Regions from separate parts of the Homo sapiens genome. Here all the other regions are linked to region 1. Evidence: fine-mapped expression QTL. A gene starts in region 1. Each other region holds a variant in brackets. All regions are shown on one strand. Distances are from middle to middle. Region 1 holds the start of SYT9-AS1 (SYT9 antisense RNA 1). Region 2 overlaps PPFIBP2 (PPFIB scaffold protein 2). Region 3 overlaps SYT9 (synaptotagmin 9).

What was found. PIP is the estimated chance that this variant, and not a neighbour inherited with it, causes the effect.
Region 2: its variant is the best candidate, but not a certain one, in a credible set for the expression of SYT9-AS1 in whole blood (GTEx, PIP 0.50).
Region 3: its variant is the best candidate, but not a certain one, in a credible set for the expression of SYT9-AS1 in blood mononuclear cells (TOPMed, PIP 0.56).

What each region holds. Positions count from the first base shown.
Region 1 is chr11:7,460,624-7,471,338 of GRCh38, forward strand. SYT9-AS1 (SYT9 antisense RNA 1) reads right to left here and starts at 5,212. Exons shown (of 5, transcript NR_103855.1): 1 at 5,130-5,212; 2 at 616-713. It overlaps SYT9 (synaptotagmin 9), which reads left to right. Exons shown (of 7, transcript NM_175733.4): 7 at 6,169-8,420. The coding sequence ends at 6,177. RefSeq lists an enhancer at 7,299-7,358.
Region 2 is chr11:7,586,036-7,596,750 of GRCh38, forward strand. PPFIBP2 (PPFIB scaffold protein 2) reads left to right here. Exons shown (of 24, transcript NM_003621.5): 4 at 7,097-7,189. It overlaps LOC105376535 (a long non-coding RNA gene), which reads right to left. Exons shown (of 4, transcript XR_007062579.1): 2 at 4,071-4,359. Among named protein-coding and RNA genes, the nearest start is that of PPFIBP2, 77 kb to the left of the region's middle. The variant C/A (reference allele first, on the strand shown) is at 7,265.
Region 3 is chr11:7,448,717-7,459,431 of GRCh38, forward strand. All of the region lies in intron 6 of SYT9 (synaptotagmin 9), which reads left to right. It overlaps SYT9-AS1 (SYT9 antisense RNA 1), which reads right to left. Exons shown (of 5, transcript NR_103855.1): 3 at 9,080-9,243; 4 at 1,657-1,726. Among named protein-coding and RNA genes, the nearest start is that of SYT9-AS1, 12 kb to the right of the region's middle. RefSeq lists an enhancer at 2,848-3,359. The variant C/G (reference allele first, on the strand shown) is at 6,957.

The DNA of each region.
Region 1 (10,715 bases):
TTTTCCTAAGCATTTAAATGGTGACTATAAATTTAACTAGTTAAGTTATTCTAAATATGTCCATTAAAATCATGAATCTTATAATTTTCTAGTGTATCAGATTGTTAAGCATTTAGCTTAAAAACAAAAATTGGGATAACAACATGTGTATTGCACTTGAATAAATAAAGTTTACACAAAAGCATCATTTATAATTCTTATTTGTTAACCCTTTCTGTGTCACAGTTACTCTTCTAATTACTAGGAACACAATGATCAGTTTAGGAGCTCTTTCTAGGAATTGAAATTACAGAGATGACCAGAGATTTGAGTCCCAAATTGCAGAGGTAGAATAACCGTGCACAGACATGGGATGGGGCATTGGTTGCCTCACAGGGGAATTTTACCAGAGCTATGAATTAATAAGGCAAGTTTCTTCTTCTGGTTGGCTTCTGCTTGCTGTACTGTCAGTGGGAGACAATCCTAGGCTTTTTAATGGAATTTTATTTTATAACCCAGTGCATCACATATATCCTAGGAATCTTTCCAATTTCACCCTTATCGAATTTTTGTTATAACTTTTATCATTCCTATTCCGTGATTTGGGTAGATGGAATTATGGACACACACACTCACACATAGTAGTCACAGAGCTTCCTGCTGAGACGTCCTTTTATTCTGTGTTCCTTCTCTTCATCCTTGATTCTATAGTCTTCTTTTGACCACACTGAGCCCTTCAAGAATAGAATGTGCATTATTTATCTTTGTGTTTTGTTTGTTTGTTTTTTGAGAGGGAGTCTGGCTCTGTCACCCAGGCTGGAGGGCAGTGGCATGATCTCGGCTCACAGCAACCTCCACCTCCCAGGTTCAAGTGATTCTCCTGCCTCAGCCTCCCAAGTAGCTGGGACTACAGGCACCCACCACTACACCCAGCTAATTTTTGTATTTTTAGTAGAGACGAGGTTTCACCATGTTGACCAGGCTGGTCTCGAACTCCTAACCTCAGGTGATCCATCCGCCTTGGCCTTCCAAAGTGCTGGGATTACAGGCGTGAGCCACAGCGCTGAGCATAACTTTGTTTTCTTAGGGCTCAGCACAAATGCCCGGTGCTCAATAAATGTTTGTTGAATGATGAATACATGTAATGAATATTAATTTGAAGTAACAGACTCCAAACATCCTCCACTTTACTTCATCAGGTAGAGTAATTTTGGCCCTATAGTAATTTCCTATCTTGCCACCTCATCGAAAAATATGACAGTCCTTGTCTTACCTTCTGAATGGTGCCTTCACTGTAGCCTTTGCTTCTTGATTGTTTCTAATGAGCCCCTCTCAGTAAATAACAATCTACATGTCACACATGCCACGCACCATTTGCCACCTTTCCCCTCAAGGTCTACTTGACGGTGAATCTTAACACACTCTCCTGTGAAGTCTGGACTGTTCAGAATTCATTTCTGGACTAAGAATCCTTTCTAGAAAGGTGCTGTAGTGGAGTTACCATTCAAAGCACAATAATTTACCATTCTGGGCATAGCACTTAAGAGCATACATTTTAATCCATAAAAGCATGGTGGCAGATTCTGGCTCTGCCATTTACTACCTTTATTATTTGGCCTTTTTCAGACTCAGTTACCTCACTGTGAAACTGTAATTGTAATATCTATCACAGAGGGTTAAGGTGAGGCATGAATGAGATAAGGTATGCAAAGCTCTTAGGATAGAGCTAGTGCTTAAGCACTCAATAAATAGTAGTTGTTGCCCAAATGGACCCTTTCATTTTTCCATGCTACTGGCCCAATCTCCTGAAAGGCAGTATAGTCACATTCATACTGCTTTATTTCTTTAACATACTTGTTCTTAAAGCCGAGAGAGGAAGTAAAAAAAAAATAGAATGTCCTCTTTACAGAAAGAAGCTAATCAGATTGTAAACTGGCAGCGCGTGATAATTTTTCATATATTTGTAAAGCTGTGCTAAGCAACAGTCAACAAAATCAGATTCTAAACCAGCAGAGCATGATGAATCTTCATATATTTGCAAAGCTGTGGTAAGCAATAAATAGTCAACAAAATCCTGAGATTTTTGTGCTTTTTAAATAAAATTTTAAATGTAAATTTAACAATATTAAGTACATAATAAGATTAAATCATGTAATAAGAATCACTTCCATTTTTGACAAGCTTCTTAGTTCAGAGCCCTTAGGTACTTCCTGTAATAAAGTCCCATTTTCAGATTCACAGAGAGATATTATCTAATGTTTCACTCTGTCTTTTCATGTTCTTAATTTGGGGTCTGTTTCAATGGCCTGTCTCATATCAGCTGTCATTTTTGTGATCGAAATGTCACTTCACATTACAGTTTTCATTAGGACAGTTCTCATCTTTGGTTTCAATTCAATTTAATTCAAATTAGATCCTTATGTCTCAGGACAATTGAATTCACTTACAATCTTCTCTGTTCAGATAGGATTGTAACCACTACTTCCTGTTGATACTACTGGAGTTGTTGGTACCTTCTAAACCCCTGGTACTGCCTGGGAGCCCACCAGGTCTCATAACAAGGACACTGCTGCTTCTGCCCATGGAAATGGGGCTGGCACCAGCACTGGAACCAGCCAAGCTAGCATTATGCTCAACAGTTATTAAACCACCGTTACTGTCTCCGGTGTTGATGACTGAGTCTCTACCACCTTCCTCTCAACAAAATCCCACTGGGTCAATGCTTTTCTGAATTATGGAAAAATCTTTCTTTTCTCACATTTTGTTTTATACAATTTTTGGCTGAAAAACAGCTCACTAGGTTATAGGAGTTTGGAAAGGTGTAATTTGCTTATTTTGTTTGATTTGGTTGAGATTTTCTAGTCTTCCCCCAACAGAAGCCAGACAAAAGGGGGCTGAACAACAACAGCAAAATTTACTCATGTCTTCTCCTGAGACAACTTTTTCAGAACTGACTTGTATGCTTGACTTTCCCTAGAATAAGTTTGTTTTCAAGAGGCTTTTCTTGCAATATTGCTGGTAGCAATGACCCTATCACGACACCAGATGTATTGAAACTCCTTAATCCTGTCATCTTGTGGGCTTGGTCCCAGCTCACAAGCATTCTAGGACCTTAGTGGCGCTGTCCAGAAGAGGAAAAGATTCAGAGCCCAGAAAACTCACCCAAGTGAAGGGCTGCACCTTAAGAAGGGGGAGACCAGTAGGCTGCACCGCCGTATTTCCAGAGGCTGACCTTGATTCTGGCTAATTACACACACAAGGAAATTCACCAAATGAGCAAAACCCAGCTATGGAGTTCAGGTGGGAGCTGTGCTATGACTTGGCCATTGGCAACAATGCCAATGCTAGTGGTATCCCTGGGTATGGGGACTGGTAAAAAAAATTGGCTAAGGTTGCAGCCTAGCCCTCTAAGCAGGCTTTAGACAGGCCATAAGAAATCAGGTACAGAGGTGGTCCCTAAGGCTGGGTACTTTGGGAGAGCTAAACCCAAAGCATTCTGAAGGAACTGCTTAAATGAAGAGGTAAAATTAGGTCATAATAGGGAAAAATGAGGTTGTGCACAGAACTGTGGGGGCAAACAAGATACATATGCATGTCACTAGCTGGGGGAATCCAGAGAAATGGGATAAGCAGCTAGGAAACCATAAGTGGGATGTGGCACCTGCTGTATGCTACTAGTTTGGACTAGGGTTCTTAAAGGAAGCTCATCTGGCTAGATTTAGGGAGTCTAGAAAGCCAAGGCAGATAAAGTACTTTTAATACATCAGAAATGTAGACTGGACCTACAGAGGGAATTGACATAATTGCTAAAGCTTGGACTTTGAAATTGGAAGTCTTGGGTTTAAATCTCAGCTCTGACACTTAGTCACAGTGTGGCCTTGTGCAAATTAGTGTCTCTACAACGCTGCATCCTCCATTAAAGAACCCCACGGGGTCTTTTAAGAACTTGTAAAGTCCATATCCCAGTGCCTGGCATACAATAAGTACCCAAAAATGAAGGAATATGGGCTGATACCATCACAACTAATTCCAGACCACATTCATTGGTGACACTGAGCCTGTTAACAATTTGCTTTCTCTGATGGGAAGGAACTCAGGAATTGGCAAACTGATATGGGTATGGGTTTCACAGTTGAAAGAGCGGCTAGGGAACCACGGGCCTGATGTAGATGGTGGCTTAGAAAGTAGAGCTATTCGGGGCCAGGCGCGGTGGCTCACGCCTGTAATCCCAGTACTTTGGGAGGCCGAGGCGGGCGGATCACGAGGTCAGGAGATCAAGACCATCATGGCTAACACAGTGAAACCCCGTCTCTACTAAAAATACAAAAAAAAAAAATTAGCCGGGCGTGGTGGCGGGCGCCTGTAGTCCCAGCTACTCAGGAGGCTGAGGCAGGAGAATGGCATGAACCCGGGAGGTGGAGCTTGCAGTGAGTCGAGATTGCGCCACTGCACTCCAGCCTGGGGACAGAGCAAGACTCCATCTCAAAAAAAACGAAAGTAGAGCTATTTGGATGGTGCTCCAGGGTAGCAGCTGATCTGGCAAACTGATATTTGAACCACAATATTAAGACAAATATCATTCAGTCTTTCTTCCTAGACACAGAAACAAAGACCCCTTTCCCAGAGATGTGTGTGTGTGCCCACACACATGCACACACTTCAAAGCCACGGGTCACAATCAAACGTGGTTTCCCTTTGCAGTGAACACACTGGCTTTTAATACTTTCCTTAAGTAAGTTATAGCCTCACATGTGAACTTTTGATCTCTGAAATGAAGTCCATAAATTTCATTGTCAGAATGGTTGCTACTCTTTTATAGTTTACGTGTAAATTTTGTTATTCCTATATCCATAGAAGTCACTTCAGTTTTTTCTCTCTATGGCCACAGTATTACTACATTTAATCTGTGCTGGAAGGTGCCCTGAGTTTAAATTAAGTTGAATGCTGGGCTGAGTGTGAAACACAAGAGATACTGCTAGTCTAAGTCTGGGGCTTCCTTAAGAGAGCCCCTCCTTCACATCTCGGAAACAAGGAATGATGTTGCACCACTCAGACCTCATCTTTCCATCCCAGCTGTATTAGTCCATTTTCACGCTGCTGACAAAGACATATCCGAGAGTGGGAAGAAAAAGAGGTTTAACTGGACTTACAGTTCCACATGGCTGGGGAGGCCTCAGAATCATGGCAGGAGGCAAAAGGCACTTCTTACATGGCAGCAGCAAGAGAAAATGAGGAAGAAGCAAAAGCAGAAACCCCTGATAAACCCATCAGATCTCGTGAGACTTATTCACTATCACAAGAACAGCACGGGGAAGACCGGCCCCCATGATTCAATTACCTCCCCTGCCGGGTCCCTTCCCACAACACGTGGGAAGTCTGGGAGGTACAACTCAAGTTGAGATTTGGGTGGGGGCACAACTAAATCATATCACCAGCCTTACCTCCGACCACTTCATTCCTCACACTACAGTCCAGTCACACCAAATTGTGATGATTCCTTCAATGCACCATGCCCTTTATTGCATTCTGCCTTTGCACAGTCTCTTTCCTCTACCCCAAGTGACCCTTCTTCTTTCCAGAGGGATTCCTCTTCAGCCTAAATGGCTTAGCTCAAGACTCATCAATCAGAATGCTCTCTATAGACCTCCTCAATCCCTTTGAAGTTACTTTCTCCCTTCCCATTGCCCCTGCAGTATTCTATGCAGCTTCTCACATCATAATATCTCCATCTGTGAGCCCTTTGAAAGCAGGGGGAGTGTCCTACTTATGGGCTTAGTATCCCCAGCATCTATTACCATGCCTGGCACTTGTTTGGTGCACATTAAAAATGTATGAATGGGCCAGGCACAGTGACTCACGCCTGTAATCCCACCACTTTGGGAGGCCGAGGCAGGCAGATCACAAGGTCAGGAGTTCGAGCCCAGCCTGGCCAACATGGTGACACCCTGTCTCTACTAAAAATACAAAAATTAGCCAGGTGTGGCGGCGGGCACCTGTAATCCCAGCTACTTGGGAGGCTGAGGCAGGAGAATTGCTTGAACCCAGGAGGCGGAGGTTGCAGTGAGCCAAGATCGCGCCACTGCACTCCAGCCTGGGTGACAGAGCAAGACTCTGTCTCAAAAAAAAAAAAAAAAGAAAAAAAATGTATGAATGAAAGCCAAATTATTTTTTTGTTTTTTCTTCCTGCAGAAACGATGACCATGGGTAAGAGGACTGCTTGTGCCAAGGACAAAATAGGACAACCATCTCACAAAGATCTTAAGTAACTTTTTCCATCCAGCAACATCCAGACGATTTCAGTGACCAAATGCTCAGCTGTAACCACAGCACTAACTGGCCTTCTTTCCAGATTGGGTTTGGTGAACCTGAATGGTCCAGCCACCTTCTGCAGGTGGCCCAAGGTGATGTGCTGCAGGGAAGCATGTCTCTCATGCCAAGAACCAAGATCGGACTATGAACAAAAACAAATGATAGATATAGTGACAGTACCAAGAGTACCAGGACTCAATGTTTCATATGAAGCCCTTGGTGATGAGGACATAGCATCTGCCCTGGAAATCGTTATTCCAACATAATATTATTTTCTAGAATGCCCTGGAAGGACAGAATATTTAAAAATATATCCAGGTGCTAAATAGGCAGCAGATCTCAATTCACACATGACTACCTTTGAGCTAATGACTGTCTCCAGAAAATAACTGTGCCCCAAGAAGTGCTCCAGATTTGCAAGGAATAGCCCCAAGAGAATACCAAGACAAGCAGGCTGTTCCCTGGAAAAAATCTAATGCAAGGAGGGCTAGTTCACAGCAAATTCACTGCCTCCTCCCATGCACGTGGTAGAGAGTACCAGTATCAACATGGCCCTGTTTTCTGCTAAAACCAGATTTTGAGGAATCAGAGACCCCCAACACTACTCACTCAGTAGCTAGCAGCCCCTTCCTTTCAACTGGGAGTGTTATTAGAATGAAAAGTAATTAGTTAGAAGGGCATACATCTCAGTGGCATGAGCATTGTGGAATATCCTTTCCTAGGCACATTCGTCCACTAAGGGAACAGCCTCAGAAACTGGTACAGCAATGGGTGAGATGAGATCATGGAGAGAGAACACAGCCATCCCCTATAGAAAGGCACAGCTTTTGGGCTTCTCTGGCCTGAATGCCTTCTGGGGTATTTCCATATGCAACAGCCCAGAGTCATAGCCTTGGGCAACCACACATAGAGGTTTCCTTCTCACTTCAGACACATACATCACTTTCACACCACTTGGGGATGGAAATACCTACAAGAGTGAAGGTCAAGGGCCCTCCCCAGGCATCTCATTCATTACTCAGCTTCCTTCCTGACCAAGTCTGCCAACCAATGGCCAGCTATGCGCCTCATCCTCATTGCTTCTGCCTCCACGTAAATGAAACCAAAGGCCTCAGCATATCCTGGGAGGACTGGGGGCTGTTACCTAATGGTCCTCTCTGTCCCATTATAGGTGCAAGGCACCCCATCCACACATTTGCACCACTACTCCAAGATAGTATTTTTCTTTTCACACAATCTCTTTACAGCAGAATCCAGAGTTGGATTGTAGTTTACCTTCCTGGAAAGCTCATTATCTCTGTTTGAATTAACATTTCAGCATGGAACTAACTGGGCGGAGGAAGGATCGTTATACGTCTTCAGAAAGTTCTCATTGCCCCAGCTGCCTAGTACTATACAAGAAGCTCTACTTTGATGGCAGATCTAAGAAGGCTATAGGCCTTTGTTTGTAGGAAGCAGTGTCATTACATTCAAGCTTCACTTCTCTGATTGGCTTCCAACCACTGGGATTCAAAGAGAATCCAAGGTTCTGCCTATGTCTGATGACATAAGGAAAACTTGGCTTCCTCTGCTCAAGGTTCCCCTCTGCTCATCCCTCCTCATTCAGACATCCTCCACCATACCAGTGTTTAGAAGCAAAACATGAAGGGCTAGCGCCACCAGGATAGTTAGCAGAAATATTGTCTGTAAAGCTAGGCAGATGAGCCCAGAAGAATGGTCCCAGAGAAAGCAGACTGGCTCCAATAGATATCAGGCAGCAATCCCAATAAATTCTGACATGTCCTTGGCAATGGAAGCCTGGGTTGGAGATCCTGAGGCAGCTGTGCCTACTGTTCCCCACCTCAGAAGCTTCCTGCCCAGAGAGCCAGCAGCCTTGGGATACTAATGAGGATGCAACTGGCTTATTGGTATGAAATAGAAGGTGGCTTTGTAGGGGCAAGCAGGCAAAGAGTACTATCCACATGGCAGGCAGGTGGCTTTGTGTCTGGAAAGCTTTGCCTAGCCAGTACAGCTGTGAGCAGAGGCTGGTTATAAATTTGAACTCCCTCAGCCCATTTGCAACTCTGCCTCTGTTCTCTTGCATTCTGTTTGGTTGCCCTTTAGTTTCCTAGTAAATGCTCCTTTTGAAAAACTCCAACCTTGTCTTATTTAACTTGGGGGAAGGGGATTCTCCAATGTCTTTTCCAGGATAAAGAAGGAAATTAAAATACCATGAAAAAATGGACATGGCAGTAGAAAGGAAACATTCTGATCAGACCTTGGGAAAAGCTGGTGCCGAGAGAGGGAGAGGCCAGGTGTCCCCCCACCCAACTGGCACTGATTCTCAGCCCCTTCCTCTTACTTCTGTTGGCTTCAAGGAGACCTGCCCTTGATGTGTGTTGCTGCTGAAGCACCCTCCCAGCCAGTGAGTTGGACATATGCAGCAGGCACTTTGATGTCCAGGAAGTACACTGGTACATGACAGGAGCAAGGGTCAGGGAGGGGAGGGGAAAGGTTTCTACAATGCAGATGTTTTCAAAATTCTCCAACAATCATGACTCTAAATGGTATGATTTAGGGCTGGGTGCAGTGACTCACACCTGTAATCTCAGCACTTTGGGAGGCCAAGGCGGGAGGATCACTTGATACCAGAAGTTCAAGACCAGTCTGGCAACATGGAGAGACCACCATCTAATTTCAAAAGAGACCCCCCGCCCCCCCGGCTAATTTTTAAAAAATTAGCAATGTACCTGTAGTCCCAGCTACTTAGGAAGCTGAGATAGGAGAATCGCCTGAGTCCAAGAGCTTGAGGCTACAGCGAGCCAAGATTGCAACACTGCATTTCAGCCTGGGTGACAGAGCAAGGCCCTGTCTCTCTAAAAAAGAAAAAAAAAAGGTATTGTTTAGTTCACATGGCCATCAGTAGAACTACATTTCATATGATGAGAAGAAAATAATTATTTATTTTACACTTGAGTCAGGGAGACTGACAAAGGATAGGTATGGAAAATGGCTTGCTATTTTCATGGCCACCCTGTCCTGCAATGCGGGGGGTGGGAGGGGGGACATTCCAATGACTTACTGCTGCATGACAAAGCACCAAAACATAGTGGCTTAAATAGAAATATATTGTCTCTCATGATTATCTGAGTTGACTGAGCTTAGTTGATGCTCTCCCCTGCAGTCTCATGGTTGCTCTCAGATGGCATCTGGGGCTGGCATCATCTGAATGCCTGCCTCGGATGGATGTCCATAATGGCTTCTTCACTCACATCTGGCTCTGGAATTGAGATAACTGGAACAGCTGCAGAATGGCTGGACATCTCTCTCCACATAGTCTCTCCATATGGTTAGTTCGGGCTTCCTCACCACAGGGACATCTCAAGATAGTGTTCTGATAAAGTGACTGGCTTCCTCCAGAGCTAGCATTGCAAGTGGTCCAGCTAGATGCTACAAGGTTCTGTTAAGTAAGTTCTAAAGGAACCTAGAGTCATTTCTGCCACATACTAGGGTCAAGAGCAAGTCATAATCTTGAATCAGCCCAGATTCAACGGGAAAGAAATTACACAAGAATGGAATACGAGAAGGTGTGGCTCATCAGGGCCATCTTTGGAGAAAGTGGGGATGGGAGTGGGAGTGGGGAGGTTAATGAGTTAAAGGGCTTCCTAGGTAGCTGTCATTTTAAAAGCACATCGAATGCTCAACACACATGGAGAATGCAATGAGTAATAAGGGGTAGAGAAGAAGGGAAGAGCTAAACTGGACAGTTAAACAGTATAAGCTAAAGAAAAGCAACCGATTCTGACTGATACAGTGCTTATGAACTTTCAATGAAAACAATTTTATGCAAAGTAATTTAATGAACTGAGAAAAGGACACTAATATGGATGTGAATATAGCCAAAAACAATGTCTACTGCCTGTATGTGGCTCCTGATAATTCTGCAGGCCACTTAGCTGCCCCTGGCCACCCACTTCACTGATAGCCACCTGGGACTATTGAGGGTGTCTAGCTTAGGAGTGCCCAGCCTCTGGTATTGCCATTCAAACTCAACCCAGAGAAGAAGGCTCACCTGTTGCTTACTGTGCCCTTCCACATCCTTACAAAGAGTATCTCTCTCACACAGGAGTCCTGAGTTGGTTGCTGGCACAGACCACAACCAGAGGCTGAGTGGCCAGTGAAACTCCTCTGAGACTCAGGTTTTCTCTCTAATGGGAATTCCTGACTCTTCCTTCTTCAGTCCTCTCTCGGGACCAAAGAGGAAGGACACCCCTCAGTATCCTTTGGCAATCACCGTGGACACTTCCGCAGCTATAGAGGTGTTGCTTTGGGATCATCTAAGACAGAGTCAAGCCTTTGGCAATGTTCAGGAAATGCTGGTATGTCTCTGAGATCAGCTTTCAAGAGGAGAGGCATGTTATGAATGGGGCCTTTCTGGGATAGCATAC
Region 2 (10,715 bases), 130 kb after region 1:
TTCAGGGATAGTGGAGAAGTGAACTCATCTTTGGCAATGTGGCCCAAAGACATGATCCCAGGGCTATTAGCTAATGGTGGGTTCTGCGTTGTCACTGTCACAGAGGCTTTCTTTTTGTTTTGTTTTTTCATTTCAAGCCTGAAAGTATTTTGGTTATTGTTCCCTTGGGTTGTTTGTACAGATCTTCATAGATATTTCTTAGGCATCCTGATCAGAAATATTGCCCCTGTTGTTCTCTTACACAAAAAGAGTGAATTAATTAAAACTTTTTGTAGAAGGCATTAAATGATGCCTTCTAACTCATGCTTCTAACTGAATGTTGGTCTTTTAGATTAAACAAAGCTAAATCATTTATAAGTTAGCTAAATTCATTTGTTAAATTATAATTTAAAAATCATTTCCATATTCCTATGATTATTCAAAAACTGTTTATATCACACAGGAATTTTTAGAGCACCCTACTATAAAGAGCACTCTGTAGTTTTAGTGCCACACGTTTTCAGGTATGCTGACCTAACTTGACCCTTTCTGTTGCTCCGTGAAGCATGATTTTTTCTATTGAAAGGATGGAAAGCCTGAGATGAGGTAACCTACTTGAGATTACACATGGTTAGGTGCAGCCCCAGCCTCCTAATTATTCTTGGTTTGTCCTCTTTCTGCAGAGAAGGTGGTCCCTTGGGGAGGAGGATGCAATAGGAATTCTGTAAATGAATATGGAAGCACCACAAGAAAGTCCCCAGGGATCCCCTGACTTGAAGTTCAGCTGGGCCAAATGAGGGGAACAGGGAACCCAGAGCTCTCAGCCTCCCAGCGCCCAGACCTGGCATTTGTACAGCTGTGTCTGACATGTAATTCTTTCGACATAACTTCTTAAACAGTTGTTAGATCTATTTCTGTTATTTACCCTTCATTTATTCATTTTCTGATTCATTTTCTGATAATATCTTTTAGACTTTAGCTCCTGTTTATTTCTTGTTTTGTTTGAACTTACTTTTTCATATCACACATCCTGCTCCCCACCTCCACCAACCCCGGTTGATGCCCATGGGCCTGTTGCATCTTGTATTCATTCCCTGTCTTAACCTTTTTGCTCTACATGGGAAATAAGAATGGAAGCAAACAGGTGGTGGATAGAAAGCCATCTATTCCACACACAAAGGACACTGAGTGCCCTTTTTATCCTAGTACATCCCACACAGACACTCCCTGTGCCACAAAGTAGATCTCAATTAGCCCCTGATGATAATCCTGGTTTGAACTATAGTTGGCTTAGGACTGACAGCCCTGTCTTAAAAATTGCCACTTTAAGCAAATCAAGCAATAGTGGCAGAATTCCTTTGCAATTCAGAACTATATCCAAATAGCAGGAATTCTTTCCTACAAGTCTGTTTCCAAAGGAGTAAATTTTAGTCAGTTGATCACCTTTTGAGACAAATGTATTAACCAGAACTTTTGGTTGCAAATAACAGAAACTCAGTTTGAACTAGGCCAAGAGGGAACCAACAGGAAGGGCTGGAATATATCTCTGCCTTTAGGCAGCGTGCACCGGGGATGAGAATGCCTCCAGTCTTTTTCTTGGCTTTTGTTTGCTTTTCTGTGCACACTGGGTTCATAGCTGTCTCTTGCTGCAAACCAGCTTTTTCCACGTGGAGCAGGACATGGCCACTGACAACCTCAGAACTGTGGCACCACCACTACCATGCTCTGTTCCCAAGTTTAAAAATTCAGAGGAAGGATTTCAACAAGTCAAGCCTGGATCAAGTGGCAGGGAGATGAGGATCTTTCTAAGAAGATGGCAGCCCTCATTTATACCACATAATTACAGTAAAGGCGATGATCTCAGCCTAGTCTACACAAACAATAGATTCCATTAAAGCAGGGTGCTGATTCTCTGCCAAGACTGATACAAGTCTTCTCTGTTTCTTTTCCTTAGCAAGAAAACAAGGGGAACAATTTGGCTGATCTAGGGTTCGCCACAATTCATGGTGAAGTTTCTTTTTTGGACCTGACATATCCCCTGAAAAATCTCATCCCTAAAATGCAATGTTCTCCAAGGTGCAGAAATCTTGATTTCTTTGAGTATGCCAGCAACCAGCTCTCTGTGCATGAGGAACTTATCAAGAGTAAATTTCTTACTCAGTGACCAAGGGGAGGGATGGGAGAGGTAGGGACAGGACCTGGTTTAGGTTAGGCTAGTATCATTGTACGGTCCAAACTGCCCCTTATGTGGGGACTTAACTATCCCTGCTGGAATCTTGCTGGTCAGTCAGTCCTCTCCCTCCTGGCTACTCACAGTTCTCTCTCTGTCCTCTCCCTGCTGAGGCTGATTGACTATCATGATCAACTCCAGGATCCCAACCATAGAATACCCTGCACAGCTGATACATTTTCCTGAGGCCCCTCTCAGTTAGGGATGGCTTAGAAAATACCCACACCTTAGGCTGTTAATTGCTCAAGCTGCACATTAGGCTTGCCCAGCCACGGCAGTGGTAGCAGTTTGGGTCTTACAGAAACAGACCCTAGGATAACCTGTAAGAATCAAGGAGGTGTGTTGTCACTGTTTCTGAAGACACTCTGGAATATTACTCCCAAGGCCTAGGGAAGACCTTGATATGACAACTCTGTGCTGTGTTTTATATTTGCCTCCGCGAGGTCTGAATTTTAGAGGATGAATTCCTTGTGTCCAAGACTTTTTTCAGCCTCTTGAGAGCAACACTTGATAGACACAAAGGTGGCTTGGCTTCAATGATCTTGACTAAGGGTGCTGAGTTCTTAAAAATATCCATTCGAGAAGCCCTTGTCTTGATTCAGTTCCGTGATATAGGAGAGGTAGTATGTTTCACTGTGGCATTCTTTAGTCAAAATTGAAGAGGATGTGGAAATGTCTGGAGTTAACAGTTCTCCACAGGGCACACAGATCACATGGTTCTCACTATATTTTTAGGTAACTAACCTGAATTACAGTATCAGAAATAGCTCTGACCATTTGAATGAATGGTCTGAAAATTTGAATGAGAAGATTGACTTTTCCCTGTCACATTTGTAGCAATAACCATCAGAACAGAGGGGGAGGAAGTTTGATCAAATATATGTAACACAGCTTACCATTGGCAGGTCTAGCCTAGTGGCTAATGTCATTGGTTGAGTAAAAATTAGCTCTTTCTTATATTCATCTGTGGATTGAGCATCCTTAACAAGTATAACGGGGGTGGATGATACTCTCCTTTATAGTCACTTGCCATCCCACAGTGGGGAACAATAGAAAATTAGCATGTAGGCCAGGCACGGTGGCTCATGCCTGTAATCTCAGCACTTTGGGAGGCCAAGGTGGGCAGATCACAAGGTCAAGAGATTGAGACTATCCTGGCCAACGTGGTGAAACCCCATCTCTACCAAAAATACAAAAAATTAGCTGGGCATGGTGGTGCATGCCTGTAGACCCAGCTACTCAAGAGGCTGAGGCAGGAGGATCGCTTGAACCCAGGAGGCAGAGGTTGCAGTGAGCCTAGATCGCACCACTGCACTCCAGCCTGGTGACAGAACAAGACTCTGTCTCAAAAAGAACAACCCCCTCCCAAAAAAAAAAAAACCTCAGAAAATTAGCACGTAGCATCCTTCAGAATTTGATTGGACTTTCTTCTCTGTGAAATGTGGGCATGGTTTTTGCAACCTGACTTCATGCGTGGAGAGCTGGGCAACTGCTCTATCGCTGACTTACCTAATCAGGAACATGGACAAGACTTTTCAGAGACACCTCAAACCTGGAATCATGCAGGGATCCACTATCCATCCAAGCCTTCTATTTGCAATTCCACTATTAAAGAAGCAGGTATACTTGTTGACCAAGCAAGCTGTCTTTAAAGTAGAGCAAAACAGAGATGTGTCCTAACTCAGTCTTTTAAAATATTTTTCTCAATAAATTGGAATCCCATTTTGATAACCACAAAGCTTATTATGCCTTGATGATGTAGTCATTTTATAATGCAAGAATGATACCAGAACGTGATTGAACCTGTTGCCAGGTTATAAGAATACAGAATATACAGATTCACCCAAAGGCAAATCCTTACCTTAGGCTGATGAGTATTAGCATTCAGCAAGACAATCCTCTTCTTGGCCCTGTTCTCAGATGCTTTCCAAGTTTTTCTCCAGGCAGAGGTGGCATTTGATCCTGGCCTATGCCCTTCTGAAGAACGCAGTTTTTTTTAACATCCTAGTCCTATATAGATCATGAAAACACATGGCTCTGACTTCATCAAAAGCAAAGGATAGTGATACTGTGGGTTTCCATCTGGAACATTATCTTTCACTGCTGTTTACCTTTAAAAAGCTTGCTGGAGAACGGTGATTTTGAAGGACCTGTAGAAGAGGAAGATGCACTGTTCCTCTAGAACAGTGATTGGGGTGGGGGAGGGACCTGTCTGCCATGCACACCACTGCTGTATGGACCAGTATGCCTGCTAGGAAAGGAGTTGGCTCCTCGAATCTGTTATAGGAGGGGCAAATATGAGGAACCACTGTTCTAGGTCCTCTAACAGTGCTTCTAGATTTTCAAATATATTTTAATTACTCAATAGAAACATTTTGTAAGAAACTCAAACATTATGTCAAAGTGCTCTGAACAGTGCCTGGCACATGTTGAGCACAAGGTGCTTGCTGTGTATTTACAGCACTGTGCCTGGACCATATTATATTAGTCTCCATGGAATTGCTTTCACCTTTGGCCCATATTGTCCACTAGCCTCTGAACTATTCTGAGAACATCACACAAAAGTAATGAGTTCTACTGGGCTCTGTTTACTATAAGGGTGTCATGGATATTGCTGATCCCATCACACAAAATCTGTCTATGAAAACGTGAAGTTTCTCCCTTGCTCCGGAATAATTATGCTTCTCCTAGGCAATTGATTTGATTTTACCATACTGATCTGCGGATCCTGTTAACTGATTGTGCCTCTCTTTTTTTACTGGCTGCTAGCGTGGATCTAGATTTTTGATCCCCCTTCTAGCATGTGCTATAGAATCTAGGTCATACATTTTATTAACTGAATTTATGATTTCAACTTTCTTACTCTTTTTTTTGTCAACTAGTAAAAATAGTTACCTCTCTGGGTGATTGTATGGGTAGACCTTTTATTATAATGAAGAATATACTGCACACCATTTGAATAAGGCATAGTTGGTACAGTGGCTTGCTGGAGTCTCTGGAAGAAGTCTTGCCTTTGGTCTTCTCTCCTTCATTTCCTGCCAGAGAATGGGCGGCTGCCAGTGCTAGGTGGCTCCGTGTCCATGTGGACTTCGGCACTGGGGTTCTACCTGCAGAGCTTCACTTGGACACCTGGGTCCTGTTTAATTCTCTGTCCACTGGAAATCACCATCATGTGAGTTCTTTGACAGAGAAGAAGTTGACCTGCTATTAAGAATTATTCTCCTACCTTTTCTTCTCTGGTTCTGAGAAAATATAGATTATAATATATTCTTGGATTCTAGTCAGAGAATTTGATCATGTGAGAACCGGAATATTAATTTAACAACAATAAACTGCCATTAACAAAGAAGTCAGTTGTGATTGTTAAGGTTCTTTGTCTGTGGCATGAAAGAGCTTCCATAACAATGAACAAGACATAGGCTCCAGAGGGGCTGGAGCAGAAGACAGTGGTGTGGCAGCAGGTGCTGCCTGGCACAGCTGGCCTGGGGAGTGGCCCCTGGGCCTGTCCTCTGGCTGCACCTTCAACAAACAATCAATGAATCTTTCACTAGTGCGCATCCAGGGTTTGAATGCGGTATGCTTGGTCCACATTTCTGTTCTAGGACTGGGCATGGCTCTGTTGCCTCCCTCACCTATGCAGTGCATTGGGAAGGGGTGGGATGAGGGGAGGAAGGAGGTGCCTTTTCTCATGGAGGGTGGTGGGAGAGCCCATGCTAAAAGTTGAAATGTGGGGAAATGGCCTAGGACAAGGTGGCCCAACTCTGGGTCTCTCACATCTGCCTCTTTGCACAATTAAGACTTTCCTCTAGGGTGGTAGACACCTCCCTCGTGAATATTGAAGTGCTGATTTCACTGGACCAGCTCAGATTGTATAATACTCAGTTCCACATTTAGCAATCAGATCTACTTTTTCAAACTGCCAAGCCTCTGGGTGGCCTATTGCAGACCAGTCTGATTTCAGTCTTCCATTTGCATGGAGGAAGGAGGTGTTGGGGCCAGCTTGGTGACATTAGCTCCTTCTCTCCTGTCTGCCCACAACCAGGTCAGACACACCCAAGAAAGTGACACCTCCTTTCTCTGCTTGGGACATTTGTAAGATTCTGCCTCTCCTCTGACATTTCACATCCTCTCCCTTTCCTCTCTTTTCTATAGTTTCTGGCTACCTGTAATTTCCTTAGCTTTTGCTCTGGCATCCCTCTGGCTATTATTTAAGTTCTTCTCAAGATGTTTTGTCTTAGCTTGCTTCTCTCAGCTCTAGCACTGGGGAAATGTGATCTGCCAGCCTGGCTACCAAAGCTCTTATTGGAGGGTGGGATTGGGGTGGGAAGGGACGTGTGAATGAAGGGCCTTGTAGTTGACATCCTCCATCCTTCATGCTCACTGTGATGTTCAGGATGGGCCTCCATGCAGCAAGGTGTGCCTTGGCTTCAGGGGACCCTGGCATGAGAATTAGGAGATACCAAGATCTGTGCAGAAGCTGTTCCCATGTAGTCCCTTGGAGAACGGTGCCAGCTCTCCAATCTCCTCAAAGAGCAGACCCTCATTGTCGCCATGCCTCTGGAGGCTGTGCCTCTGGCTAACCCAGACCCAGCATGTCAAGTCAAGCACTGCTGGGCCTAGAGTTTCACAGAGGCCCTCCTGGCCAGGAGTGAGGTCATCCAGGAGGTGGTTGTGCCAACTTCCAGGGCGCACTTTTCAGTGGCATGTGATCTGGTTCTCCTCATGGTAGTTTTGAAATCTTGTGGTTTCCTGTTTTGATGATTGGTTTTGTACATATAATCAGTGAAACTATCCTCACAAATTACATGCATCCCTTATTTCATTTAGAAGTTGGTAAGATGTTTTTCCAACCTTTTAAGTGTATTCTTTTTTTTCTGTCCTCTTTAGTCCCAGGTAAACCACCACAGTGCTGCTAGTAATGAAACCTACCAGGAACGCTTGGCACGTCTAGAAGGGGATAAGGAGTCCCTCATATTGCAGGTGGGTACTTTTTGGTGAGAATCGGCTTATCCTGTTACCTCCTACTATGTAGCTTCCCCTAAGTGGAAGGGAAGC[C/A]CAAGAGATTTTCTCTGTTGGAATTTTTCTCCTTCCAATGCCTATGTTTTTAGAAAAGACTTTTCCTGAAATAAAACATTAAGTAACTGAGGGGACAATTTAACTCTAGACTTGGCTTAGGGGGGCTGTGAATTCAGTCATTCATTTATCATGCACTCCCAAGCACCCGCTTCTATACACTGGCAGCCCCATGACCAGGCTGATTTCCAGGTGCTAAGAATGAACAAAATGGGCCCTGTCCCCCAGAAGCTCCTGAGTCTTGCGAGGGAGGGGAGATATATCCTCATGCCACTAATAAAACAGAGCTGTGGGTGATACAGGCCTAAGGGTGAATGCTAATGAATCAAGTCCAAATTGTCTGAAGCTGGATCTAGACTGATCCCTTTAATGCCAAATCCCCTGGAGCTGGTAACAGGGGCTAAGCCTTTGATAGCTGTCTTGCTTGAAAGAGAGGAGCTCCAAAACCTTTTACGGAGAAAGATCATCAAGGGAGCTTTTTCGCTGTTGAAAGTTTGTGTGCCTTGGTAGGACATAGAGTTAGGTATTCTCATAAGAAGGCTGTTGAAGAAGCAGGCCCAGCACTTTGCTGTGTTAGCTCTTGAAAATATAAATTGATTAAGCAAGCATTTACTCAAGGTCTGGTATGCATCAGATATTAATTAGTGATTTGGAAAATATAAAGGCTAGTATCCTAATCCCAGCTCCTTAAAAGCTTAAAGGGTGATGAGTTAGACTGGTGGTAGAATGAAGGGAGGGGTTGAGCGGGGCCTGGAACCCACCCCAGGCTATGGGCTTTAGCTTGGAGCACTAAGGTTATGAGGTGGCAGTGTGTTTGTTTTTTCTCTTTTTACCTTACTTATTTTACTCTTTCATTGTATTTTATGAACATAAGGGTAATGAATGATTTTAAAAACCTTTAAAATTCTAAAAATGTGAAGAAGCAGGTTAACACTTCGGCCTTTTTTCCAGTGTTGTTGGTTTTTTTTCTTTTGCCTCTATTGTAAATAACTGAGCTCATACCAAATATATAGTTTTACATTCCAGTTTTGTATTTTTCTTCACTTCATTGATTTCTTCATTATAAAATAATTGGGTATCTACAACTTGTGAGATGCTGGTTTTAGATGCTGGGATAAAGCAGTGAAAGAAGCAGACTAAATTCCCATTCTTGTGGATCTTCCATTTGAAAGAGAGAGAGTGGGCCAGGTGCAGTGGCTCATGCCTGTAATCCCAGCACTTTGGGAGGCTGAGGCAGGTGAATCACCTGAGGTTAGGAGTTGGAGACCAGCTTGACCAGCATGGTGAAACCCTGTCTCTACTGAAAATACAAAAATAAGCCAGGCATGGTGATGGGTGCCTGTAATCCCAGCACTTTGGGAGGCTGAGGCAGGTGAATCACCTGAGGTTAGGAGTTGGAGACCAGCTTGACCAGCATGGTGAAACCCTGTCTCTACTGAAAATACAAAAATAAGCCAGGCATGGTGATGGGTGCCTGTAATCCCAGCTACTCGGAAGGCTGACGTAGGAGAATTGATTGAACCCAGGAGGTGGAGGTTGCAGTGAGCCAACATCGCATCACTGTGCTCCAGCCTGGGCAACAGAGCGAGACTCCATCTCAAAAAAAAAAAAAAAAAAAAAGAAAAAGGAGAGTGTGAATTGACAATAAGCCAATACATTAACTATTTCAGGTGCTGGTAAGAACGCTGGAAAAAAGTAAAGCAGGATGAGGATTGTGTAGTAAAAGGAAGATCTCCTTTACAGGAGGAAGCCAAGGAGGGAGCCATGCAGATACCTGGAGAAGTGCATTCCAGGCAGAGCAGGCAGTCAGTCCAGCCCACACACTGAGGCAAGAGTGTGCTTGGGGTGTGGGAAGAACAGCAAGTGGCCATTGTGCCTGCAGTCTGTGCTCAAAAGGGTGGTGCGAGCTGCCTTTAGAAAGGTAGCAAGGGCCAGATTGAATAGCACATTGTAGCACAGATGTTTGAGGGATGTGTAATTTGAAACTCTTATCCCAATGACATGATTAATGAAAGAGTATCCAATGTAAGATTTTGCAGCAAACAGTATGAAATTGCAAACTTTTGAACCAGGACCCTTCATGATTGAAATAGCACATTCCTATTTACAGAGGATTACAATTTAATTTTTCAAAGTCCTGTGTAATAATGCTCCCTTTCACATTCATAGTTTTCTAAAATTCCAAATTCTTGAATAATCCCCATTTAAATAATCCTAACACAATTGGGAAGCTGCTTGCCAGTAAAGTCAGAAGTTGACCCTAGTAGTTTCTACTCTACTGGGAGCTTATGGGCAGACTCCAGGAGTGTCTGTTAAGTGATCACTGCTGTTCTGCAGTGGAGCTGGTTAGGCAGATTCTCAGCAGGGTAGAGCCTCTTGCTTAATGCACACAGCAGCTTAGCCAGACTGAATTAATTTAGAGTCCTTGGCCCAGAAAGTTTTCCTGGTTCTACTCATAGAACAAGGCAAATCACACATAACAAAATACTTTGTTTCTAGGATTAGTTAAAAACAAAACCAGAATCTCTTGTATCTTCATTATAATGTAACTCCTTAGGAAAAGGATTTTTATCCTTTTTTTTTTTTTTTAACTTCTGTATCCTCCAGTACCTAAAATTATGCCTAGCATCTATTAGGGTCTCAAAAATAGTTGTTTTTAGTGAACAAAGGTCACATTTTATGACCTTTATGTATTTTGTCTGGATTTCCTACATCCCTTCATTTGTAATACTTAGAATCAGCGTTGAGGTTCAGAAAGCCCCTGGAGCTGAACAATTAGCTATAGAATGCTAGAGATCCTATGATTCCTTGAGTATCACCAACACATGGCCTCAAGGCATGGTATAGACCATAGAAATGTTTAACCCTCATAATAAGATTAACCAGAAAACATCCTTCACAAACAGAAACTCTGGATTCCAGTGAGCAAAGCCCACCCCCAGAGTCCTGCCCTTTTGAAAGTAGAGTTAGTTCAGGATGGCTGAGAGTGTTGGGCCACAGGGATTAATAAACACCCACCCACAAAGGTTTGCGTGTAAGGTGGACCAAGTTGATAGAAAGAGCCCGTTCTTGTTTTTTTTTTTTTTTTTAACATTTTTTTTGGTTAAAAGTGGAATGTTAACCATGTGTCAACTCCAGGAATATGTTTCAATAATTCATTAATCATTTGGGAAAATAAAAATGGAGATCTTAAAGTAGGCATATTAATTTAGATTAGTTCCTTTTTAAACAGGCGCTTTATAATTCAGAAAGTTTATCTAAACACTCATAAATGAATTCACATCAACTCATGCACCATCTATTATTCCATTTCAGACTGAGAAATAATTCTGGATAATCTATATGTAAATGGCAACAACTCTAACCAAAAAGGTCTAAAGGATCTCAGTTTATCAACTGCTAATTTCTTCACTTTGGGGAGGACACTCATTCT
Region 3 (10,715 bases), 12 kb before region 1:
AATAACTCACTTTTCATAGGCCTTCAAACGTCATTCTTTAGCAGGGCCCAATGAGTGAGGGGCAGGGTCTCTACAGCTTCCCCAGAGACCTGAACCCCTCTTTTCAGTCGTGGCTTCACGGTGGATGGGTCATCACTAAGGATGAGAAGGCTGCCAGGCCCAGTTGACTGGGGTGGGGCAGATTCAGGGCTTGAGGTGGAAAGGAAAACTGGGAGCAGCAGGGGCTTAGTCTTCACAGAATGAAGGAGGGTGGCCAAGGGTGTTGCTGATGGAACCAGGGAGGAGAAGCCAAGACTCAGAGGGTTATAAGAAAGTGGAGGAGCAAAGGCATCAAGGAGCAAAAGAGGTCAGGCATGGTGGCTCACACCTGTAATCCCAGCGCTTTGGGAGGCCAAGGTGGGCGGATCACTTGAAATCAGGAGTTTGAGACCAGCCTAGACAACATGGCAAAACCCTGTCTCTACTAAAAATACAAAAATTAACCGGGCATGGTGGTGGATGCCTATAATCCCAGCTACTCAGGAGGCTGAGGCACGAGAATTGCTTGAACCCAGGAGGCAACAGTTGCAGTGAGCCAGCCTGGGCAACAGAGTGAGACTCCACCTCAAAAAAAAAAAAAAAAAAAAAAAAAAAATGGAGCAAAAGCGACAACCTTGCCAGGCCACCCTGAGGTGCATAGATGCATGGAATGTGAGGGACTAAGTGGCCTCTTGAGAGTGCTACAAAGAAAGTGTTGTGACTTCAAAAGAGAACCAGGATTCAGTTGAAGTGAGAAAGTGGATAGAAAGTTTACATGAAGGATTAAGGATGTAGGGGAGGTAGGTGTGGAGCACCAGAGGAAGGCTGGAGACAGTGGAAGTGGGGGCTGGTTTGGAGAAGGGGAAGTACAGGGCAGGATATGATGACAGTAGGGACAAGAAAAGCAACTGGACTGGGGGTGTGGAAAGCACAGCCTGCCAGGTTTGATCTCAAGGGGCAAAGTCTGCTTCACCCACAGGAAGCAAGGTGACCAGGCTATCCTAGAAAATAAAGCCACAGCCATCCTCAGACCAGCTGTTCTCCTAGAGTTGTTTGAGAGAGGGCCTGAACTGTCTCTCCTCATGTACCCATTTATTCGTCCATTCCCCAGTGTTTGTGAGCATTGGGTCTGGTGGGCCCCTGCTCTTCCCACCACCTTAAACCCTCTCCTGCCTGCCCAACTACCACCCCCTCCCCTGTGCCCAGCTAACTTCTCAACTCCTGTCTGCCTTCTCCCCGATGCCAGTCATTGCCCGCCTCCCAAGCAGGCATGCTTTGCCTGTAATATGATCCCTCCGATGAATAATAATCCAATGTTACATTTTCTACTCTATCCAGACCACTGTGCTCAGTGCTGTACAGGCATCCCCAGTTTAACTCTCACCCTGTGAAGTAAACAGTTTTGTCTCCCCAGATAAAAGAAGCTGAGGCTTAACTAATTTATCCAACATCATGAGGCAAATAACTGGCCGAGCTATCAGATTAAGGTAGATGGTATTATTTCTTCATGGTTATATGCCCCAGCACACTCTTGTCAGGGTCTTGACTCCAATGACTTAGGACTCGGGCCTGGGATTTGCTTCAATCAATAGAATATGAAAGGATGACAACATGCCAGTTCCACATGTTTCTACTCACCCCCTTGAACTTTTAGCATCTGTCATGGGAATAACATGCGCTGGAAGACGGGGGCTTCTTCAGCTCGGTCCTGGAACAAGAAGACGCAGAAGTAGATTTCTACCTGTCTGGCAGAGCTGCAGCCAACCACAAACTCATCAGCAAGAAATTAGTGTGTATTGTTGTAAGCAACTAAGATTTGGAGTTGTTATTGTAAGAAAAGCTGACAAAATACAGATTTAAACTCACAGTGTTCCTCCATCTCTGCCTGTTGGACATAGCTACCAAGCTTATTTGGGTCCAAATGCGGACTTACTTCTCTCCACCTGTTAGGAAAGGCTTTCTCTCTTCATTATTTTATCATCAAGATGAATCTCACAACCTACTGGAATTCCAGTTTAACTTTTCTTTTCCTTCTCTTGCCCTCTCCCTGGAAAAAGTTTTACACATGCCGACACATGTCAGCAAACCTCTCAACCTCACATCTGTGCTGGTCAAGCGGCTTTGAAGACACAGCTATACCAGTCAGAGCACAATCAGTTTCTGACATGGTCAGTGTCGGGATCACACAGTAATGCTGGTTTTAAAAGACTTTTCTTTCTCAGCTGTTATTATTCAGCTCACTTAACAATTAAAACTAGAACAATGCCTTAGAATTTTTAAGAAAATTCTTTTGTTTCCATCCTGCTGGCACCGATTCATCATCCTTTATGACTTCACATTCCCAAATGATTTGTGATGTAGGTTTTTTGCTAATGTACTTTCAGTTGTTTTGCTTCTGATGTTTCCTCCCCACCTAATCAAATGCTTCAAAATAACCATAATTTCTAAACCCAGTAGGACATAGGACATGCACTGAATAATATGCACTAAAATTTATTAACAGAAAGCCCTTTGTTTTTAAAACTCTGAAAGCTAATGGAATACTCTTTTTTACTTTAGAAGGCATGCTGTGTTCTGTGTGGTTTTCCCACAGATGTGTTTTTAAATGTTGCATTCTGTTAAGACTAAATGTTGTATTTGCAAAGATTTTACTCCCCCAAAGCAGAACATAATTTCCCTCGCTATCTTAGCTTGAAAAGGCCTGAAGTGAAAATGTATGACTTTGCTTATGCAGCTTTTCTTCTCCTCTTCAGATAAAAGAACCACATTTTCCTTTGAGGACTCACCCCTCTTCCCCCTCTAACCATGTGGTTTGGGTAGAGGCATCCACATCCTCAGCTCCAGGAATGTCTTTGCATCTCCCCAGGCTTAAGCCCAATCATCACATTCAGGGATTGGTTCGGGGTGAGTGTGTGACCCAATTTAGGCCCAGGAATTTTGTTGGAACTATCCGGAAAAGTCACATCTTTCCACTGGACTTGAAGCTGTGAGGATGCAAATGTGGGGTTGTTGGCTGCTATCTCACCATCAAAATAATAGAGTGCACTCCGGGATGGAGTGAAACAAAAGAAAGCATACTTGAGAAGTAGAGAAGGTGATAATGAGTCCTGATGACACTGTCTGAACCTCTGGATCCAGCTGTGCCTGAAACTGTTCCTTGCAAGGGACTAGCATGTACCTCATGACCGACAACAACAAATCTGACATTGCTGCTGGTTGGATTCCAACTCTAGAGAAAGAGATAGCTAGAAAATTAGTCTGCACACACAAAAGCAGAGAAAAAATACACAAAATACCCAGTGGTTAATTTTAAAATGTGAATGAGCAATCAAGGGTCACTAAGTAAGACAGAACTGACAGCATTAATAGAGGTTTATATTTAAAACACACACACACACACACACACACACACACTGAGGAAAAACAAACAATGATAAGAAATCAAATTCAAGTGTAAAATAAATCAAAAGTATAGTAATCTTAAGTAATTAACATGTAGAAAATCTACTCACAAGCACTTCTGCTTGTTGCCACATTGGCCTCAAGTATTAGATAAGAATGTCCTGGCTCCCAGAGGCCTTCTCACTCCTGATTCTGTTCCCTGCAGTTCTCCTCACTCAGAAAAGCTGCTCTCTGACTCTGTCCACTGCTTCTTTCCCACAGAGGTGTAGGTACGTAAGTTGGGGCCATTTCAAAGGCAATCTTCTCTCATCCTCTTGTGCAATGTCTTGAGAGGCTGCTCTGAAGAAGTTCTAATTTTTGACAAAGTTTTGCTTCTATACGGTCAAAATGATCTCACTGGGGTTTCCACATGTTGCTCCTGGTCTGTCCATTAGGACAGCTCTGAACGTCCCCTTCCCTTCCAGAGTGCTTTTGTTTTTATTTTTGCCTTACCCATACTCCTTTCAGAGAGACTGGTCCTTAGAGCAGAACATAAATTCCATACAAGATAGCAATGGAGCCAGTTGCCCAGAGAGCTTTGAACGGGACAGTTATCACACCCTGAGTCAAGTAGAATGCTTTGGGCTTCTAGGAACAGAAAACCTAACCCAAACTCCTTTTTATGAGGTGAGGTTTTGCTCTTGTTGCGTAGGCTGGAGTGCAATGATGCGATCTCGGCTCACCACAACCTCCGCCTCCTGGGTTCAAATGATTCTCCTGCCTCAGCCTCCCGAGTAGCTGGGATTACAGTCATGCACCACCACGCCCAGCTAATTTTGTATTTTTAGTAGAGACGGGGTTTCTTCATGTTGGTCAGGCTGCTCCCGAACTCCCGACCTGAGATGATCCCCCTGCCTCGGCCTCCCAAAGTGCTGGGATTACAGGTGTGAGCCACCGCGCCCGGCCCTGAAACTCCTTTAAAGAATAAAATGAGGCCGGGCACCGTGGCTCATGCCTGTAATCCCAGCACTTTGGGTGCCTAAGGCGGATGGATTGCTTGAGCTCAGGAGTTCTAGACCAGCCTGGGAGACATACTGAGACCTCCGTCTTTACAAATATAACAAAAATTAGCCAGGCATGGTGGCGTGCCCACTATGGGGAGGAGTGGGTACTGTCAGTACAAGCTGGGAAGATACTCCAAAGTGTTTCTGTAACCCCTAGGAGCCAGCCATTGGCTTATCTATCATCAGTTCCCATGACCATCTTCAGTTGTCCTGGTCTCTAGCATGCACACATTCATTCAGCCAGTGTTTACTGAGCCCCGCCATATGCCACATGCTATTCCCAACACTGGGAATAAGGTGTTGAGCAAGGCAGTGAGTGGGGACCCCTGTGCCGTGGAGGTTGCATTCTGGTGGAGGGAGACAGGCAAATTGCATACAGTTGAACAGAAAATAGGTCATCACAAGCTGGACGATGCAAATACAAAGGCAAGATGTGACAGCAGTGATGGGGCACTCCTTTGTGCTGGGTGGCTGGGGAAGGCCCTGAGAAAATGACACTTTCCCTGACTGACCAGAAGCAGACAGCCAAGCAGAGGCCTGAGAAGTGCATTTCCATCACAGAGCAGATGGCCAGCATGCATCTCTGGAGCAAGGACCAGCGTGGCCTGTCCAGAAGTAGAGAGGAGGCAGGTGTGGCCAGGACCATGAGCAACGAGAGGTAGAGTTGTAGGAGAGGAGGCCGAAAGGGAGTCAGGCCAGGGCGCAGAGGGCATGGCCCCTAAGTTCAGATCTCAGTCGCCCTCCTCAGGAGCACCAGGGAAGAGGCCTTAAGCCCAGTCTCCTTCAGCAGGCACCCTCTGTGGTCTCCTCTTGTTTGACAGGCCAGAGGCTCCCAGCTGGCCAAGAGGGCTCAGCTTCCCCACAGGGCAGGATACCAATCCCTAAGTCCAGGTGAGTCGCCCCTTTTCTGACATTGCTGCTCCCCAGTCACTTTTCTTTCCTTTCCTTGCTACCTACCTGATTTCCAGCCCTTGATGAGAGTCCAAGCCTCCAGCTCCCAGAATCACCCTTCATTTTAATACTCAAATACCCTGAGTCCCCACCCTTTCTCTCTAGCCCTTAGTTGATGTCTTCCTCCCATTTGTCTCTGCAGTGGCCTGAGGAATGGTCTTTTTTGCATCTCATGATTCCAGATGATGCTTACCATTTCCGCTCTCTGCTGCACTCCAGGCTTCTCTACAGCCATCTTTAGAGGCCTTCAGCTGCTTCTCCCAGCCACCATCTTCTCCCTGCCCTATCCCCACATCCTATCCCAAGCACGGACACAGTCCCTTTCCCCATTCCCCCAAAGCATGCAAATGCCAGACTATAGCATTTAATGAAGATTTCCTAAGGGCTGGGGATAACACGAGTGAAGACAATGCGAGTAACTGAAATTAAAAATTCTATAGCCAGGGAAAGAAACATCCATCTAATATCATAATTGTCTCTGCCAATAGGAAACTGCCTACGGGGAACACATTTTACATTGTTATGCAGAATAACACAGCCTCTCATTCTGAGATTGGACCTGGGCATTACCTTTAATAACCTAAGGCCCCTGATACCTCCCCAAAGAGCTGTTTCCCCAGCACCCCAACACACTGTCTTGCAGGTGGTTTCTTCACTAGGGTGCCAGGATGAGGAGATGTGTGAAGCTAAAGTCAGCTCAAAGTCAGCTTTCTCTCCACTCACCAAGTGGTGAGTTTGCCTGGAGGAGGCTTCTGTTTCTAAGTCACACAAAGGCCCAATGCTAACAGCATGGCTGAGAGATACATGCCGTGGCCTACTATCAGCCACAGTGTATAGAGGACAGCAGATACACAGATGAGAGAAAACGAATTCAGCTAATAGGTTTTATTTGTTTTGACATTGTGAGTATCTTTGAGATGAAAAGCTAATAGTTGGAATAGTGCCAAAAATCTTAATATTATTAATAACATATCAATAAAAGCCTCTAAACCTTTAAGGATAAAAGAAAGTTTCTTATCTTGTATCCTCTTTTCAAACACATTTAAGGGCCTTTGTTTCTGTCTCTTTCACTGAGAAAAAAAAAGCAAGCTGCAAGACAATACATTTTCTAAAATTAGCACACATTTAATTGACTTTTCAAAATGAAGTTCTATTCAACCTATTAGATGTGTATATTCCATACAACATTCCAATGTTTAAGCTATTTTTTTTTTTTTTTTTGAGACAGATTCTTGCTCTGTCATCCAGGCTGGACTGCAGTGGCGCCATCTCGGCTCACTGCAGCCTCTGCCTCCTGGGCTCAAGCGATTCTCCTACCTCAGCCTCCCAAGTAGCTGGGACTACAGGCACCCGCCACCACGCCTGGTTAATTTTTGTATTTTTTTTTTTTGTAGAGATGGGGTTTTACCATGTTGCCCAGGCTGGTCCTGTACTCCTGGATCCAAGTGATCCACCCACCTCGGCCTCCCAAAGTTCTGGGATTTAGACATGAGCCATTGTCCCTGGCTCATTTAAGCTAATTCTGAGACTTTTTCCCAAATA[C/G]AGAAAAACACATCTGTAAATCACCATTGGAGAAAGAAAGGAGAACGTGAAGGTCCTGGGAAAGGGGTGAAGGCCCCTGCTTGAGGACTTCATGGGGTTGGTACTTAGTCCCTCATGGTATCACAATAGGCTATGCATTCTACAGCTGCTCTTTGTGACCTGTGTAAATTCTGGGCAAAAATGGCCTTTCCCTGGGTCATGTCTGCTAAAGCAAGTATCACCATCCAGTCAGATGGGGCTGATCCCAGCAGGTGCCCAAGAAGGAAGTCACCCACTGTCTAAAAGTCCTACATAATCCTCAGGGTTCATTTTAGGTGCCACCTCCTCCATGAAGTTTCTAGTGAGCAATGCCCCATTTGGAATGAAGTACTCCCTTAATAGTTTGATTGTATTTAGATTGTATTTGATTATACATTTACCACTTACCACCTCTCATTTTTATTTTGTAGTTAGTTGGATACATCTGTCTTCTCTCCTGATGTGAACTCTTTAGGTCTGGGGCATAGGGTCTGTCAGTACCCACTAAATTGACTATTTTTAGTTGATTTGGACTTACTGCAGACCTTTTACTAAACATGGCAATTGAGCTTTTGCTCTCTGATCATGGAGAAGTTTCCAGTATGCAATAGTCAGGAGGCAGGAGGGGGCTGGTCAGTGTGTAAGTACTCAAGGGAGGATTAAAACAAGGTACAGTCTGCACACAGCTCCTCACAGTGGGTGGAGGCACCCAGAGGAGAGAGGCAAGCTGCCTGCACATGCAGCAGGCTGGTTACACCTCCCTCCAGTGTCTTCCCCATGTCAGGCAAATGAGAGCTAGAGGACCTTGGGATCTTGCTCTTTAGCCAGAAAATGGCCACCCTCCATAAGTGGTAATGGTGATATCCTGAAATCAAGTTCACAGGTGAACAGATCTAATGTCCATTTTATTGTTCACTAAAGTTTAGGGTCAGTTGAGAGTGGGTGATAAATATATGACTCTTCATTCATTATCTCTTTGGTATTTATATTTTTGACTTATTTTTTCAGAACTCCATTGGTCCCTATTCAGGAAATGCTAAATTTAAACAGCCCCGTCCTGTTTTGGGACCAGCCACCTAGAGTTCTCAAGTGCTAAAGGCAACGACCTCCTTCCCATCCTCACTCACCAGTAATTCCACAGGGCCAGGCTCAGTGAGATCTGTCAAGGCAAGAGGGGTGCTTCAGCTGATCCCATACTATCACTCAATTCTGGTTTTCTGACTCTCTTATTTGTTTTCAATCCAACCTCTACACTCCTTCAAGTACTAAAGTACAAATCTGAGCATGTAACTCTCCCACTTAAAAATCCTTCAATAACTGCCCTTCATTCTGAACAAGATCAAGATCGAGTTCCCTACCTTGGCATTCAAGGTCCTCTGCGACCCTGCCTCCATCTCCTCCTTATACTTTATGTTGGGGCCACACCTAATGGCTGGTGGTTCACACAGTGCTTTCTATTCACCCCCATGCCCTTGCTTCTGCTTTAACTTTTTCTTGTGCTGTCCTTTCAACCCCTCTTTTCCTGCCTAGATCCAGCCTGTCTTTTTAGCATCTAATCAGTTGTCAGCTTCTTCAGGAAGCATTCTGAAGATCCTGTGGTATGAGCTAAATGCTTCTCGTCTGTGCTATCCTCTCCTAGCACCCTGTGCCTGCCCCTGACATAGCATTTGGTGCCACTTGATATTATCTGTGTGTGTGTCATCCCCAGCACCTCCCACTGCTCCTTGAGAATGGGCCTAAGTGTTATTCATCATTGTATAACAAGCACCTGGCAAAATGCCTGGCACAAAGTCAGCATTGAATAAGTTCTTGTTGGACAGAATTTCAATTTCTTCTATCTTACAACTTGTAAAATGATTTTTACAAGTTTTACTTACTGATTTCTTAGATAAATTCTCCATGTCAATTTTTCTTCAAATCTACAGGCATAGTGGTTCTATTAATGCACCAAAGCAACTGAGAGCTAGCTCTGAATGCCAAAGAGCCAGGCAACACCCATGAGAATGAAGACAGTGGCAGTGAAGGTCCCAGTCATCATCTCAGATGGATTTGCAGTGTCATGAGGGCTCAAACAGTTCTCATAAAGGTCTTTATAAGAGACTTACCTTAGTTTAAAAGGCAGGTTGGGAAACCCATGACCATTTCCTCCAGAAAGCACAGAATTCCTGCAAGCCTGGGGTCACTATTTTGGCTGCCATGCTGTCAGCTTATCCCAGCAATCTTTCAAGGTGCTTCACTGTATGGCATCATTTGCTGTATTGTAAGAATTCTGTTCAAGTAAGAATCAATCAAGCTTCCTTTGAAACAATCACTTTGCATAAGGAAATGGGAGTTTCAAGGATGTATTTATTTGTTCAACAAATATTGATTGAATACCTACTATAGGTGCTGAAGATACATTTTTAGGGACAAAATAGTCAAAAATCTTTGCTCTAGTGAAACTTGACTAGTGGGAGACACAGATGTATTATGTTATAGTGAAGGTAAATGCTATGAAGAATAAAATAGGGCCGGGTGCGGTGGCGCACACCTGTAATCCCAGCGCTTTGGGAGGCTGTGATGGGCGGATCACCTGAGGTCAGGAGTTCGAGACTAGACTGACCAACATGGCAAAACCCCTTCTCTACTAAAAGTACAAAAATTAGCCGGGCATGGTGGCGGTCGCCTGTAATCCCAGCCACTCAAAAGGCTGAGGCAGGAGAGTCACTTGAACCTGGGAGGCAGAGGTTGCAGTGAGCCGAGATCATGCTACTGCACTCCAGCCTGGGCAACAAGAGTGAGACTCCATCTCAAAAAAATTAATTAATTAATTTAATTTAATAGAGCAAGCAATGGGGATCAGAAGTGTGACATAGATTGTTTACTTTTTACAGGGGGTTAATTTTAATGGAGGTAATTGTAGGGCTCACAAACAATTGCAATATTTGAGCAAACACTTGAAGGAGGTGAGGGAGCAAGCCCTGTGGCCATGCAGAAATACACGCTAAGGGAACGGCCAATACAAAGGCCTTAAGGAGGTTCACACGAGGATAGTGAGGAGAGTAATGTGGGGGATGCAGGAGAGAAAAAAGAGAGAGAAGTAGGGGATGAGATCAGAAAGGTAACAGCGGGCAGAGCTCAGGTAACTGGAACCCAGTAGAGCTTCAAAAGTACTTTGGCTCATTCGCCAACATGGCAATTTTTAAGAGAGATGTGACATGATCCAAAGTTATCACTGATCTCTCTGCTGCTGTGTTGAGAATAGACTAGATAATGACAAGGTTGGACGTGAGAATACCCATTAGGAGTCTACTGCTATAATCTAGATGGCAATAACAGAGGCTTGGACAGTGTAGAAGCAAGGAACATGGTGAGAAATGGTTACATTCTGGGTATATTTTGAAGGGAGACCCAATAGGGTTTTCTGTAGGGTATGAGAGAGAAAAGTAAAGGATGATTCCAAGGTTGACCGTGGAAAGATAGAGCTGCCATTAAGTGAGCTCAGGAAGACTGCAGGTAGAGCACCTATGTGGGATGATCAGGAGTTAGACCTAATAGGTTTGAAGCAACTATTGGATATCCATAGGAAAACATAAAATAGCAGTTAGATGCAGGAATCTAGAGTTCCAGAGAAAGATCAGGCTGTAAAAATGGATGAGATGTAAATGGTAAAGAGAAGAGGTCCCAGGACTAAGAACTGGGACATTCTATTTAAAGGTAAAGAAAAGAAGAGAAACCGATAGACTGAGAAGGAGCAAGTCA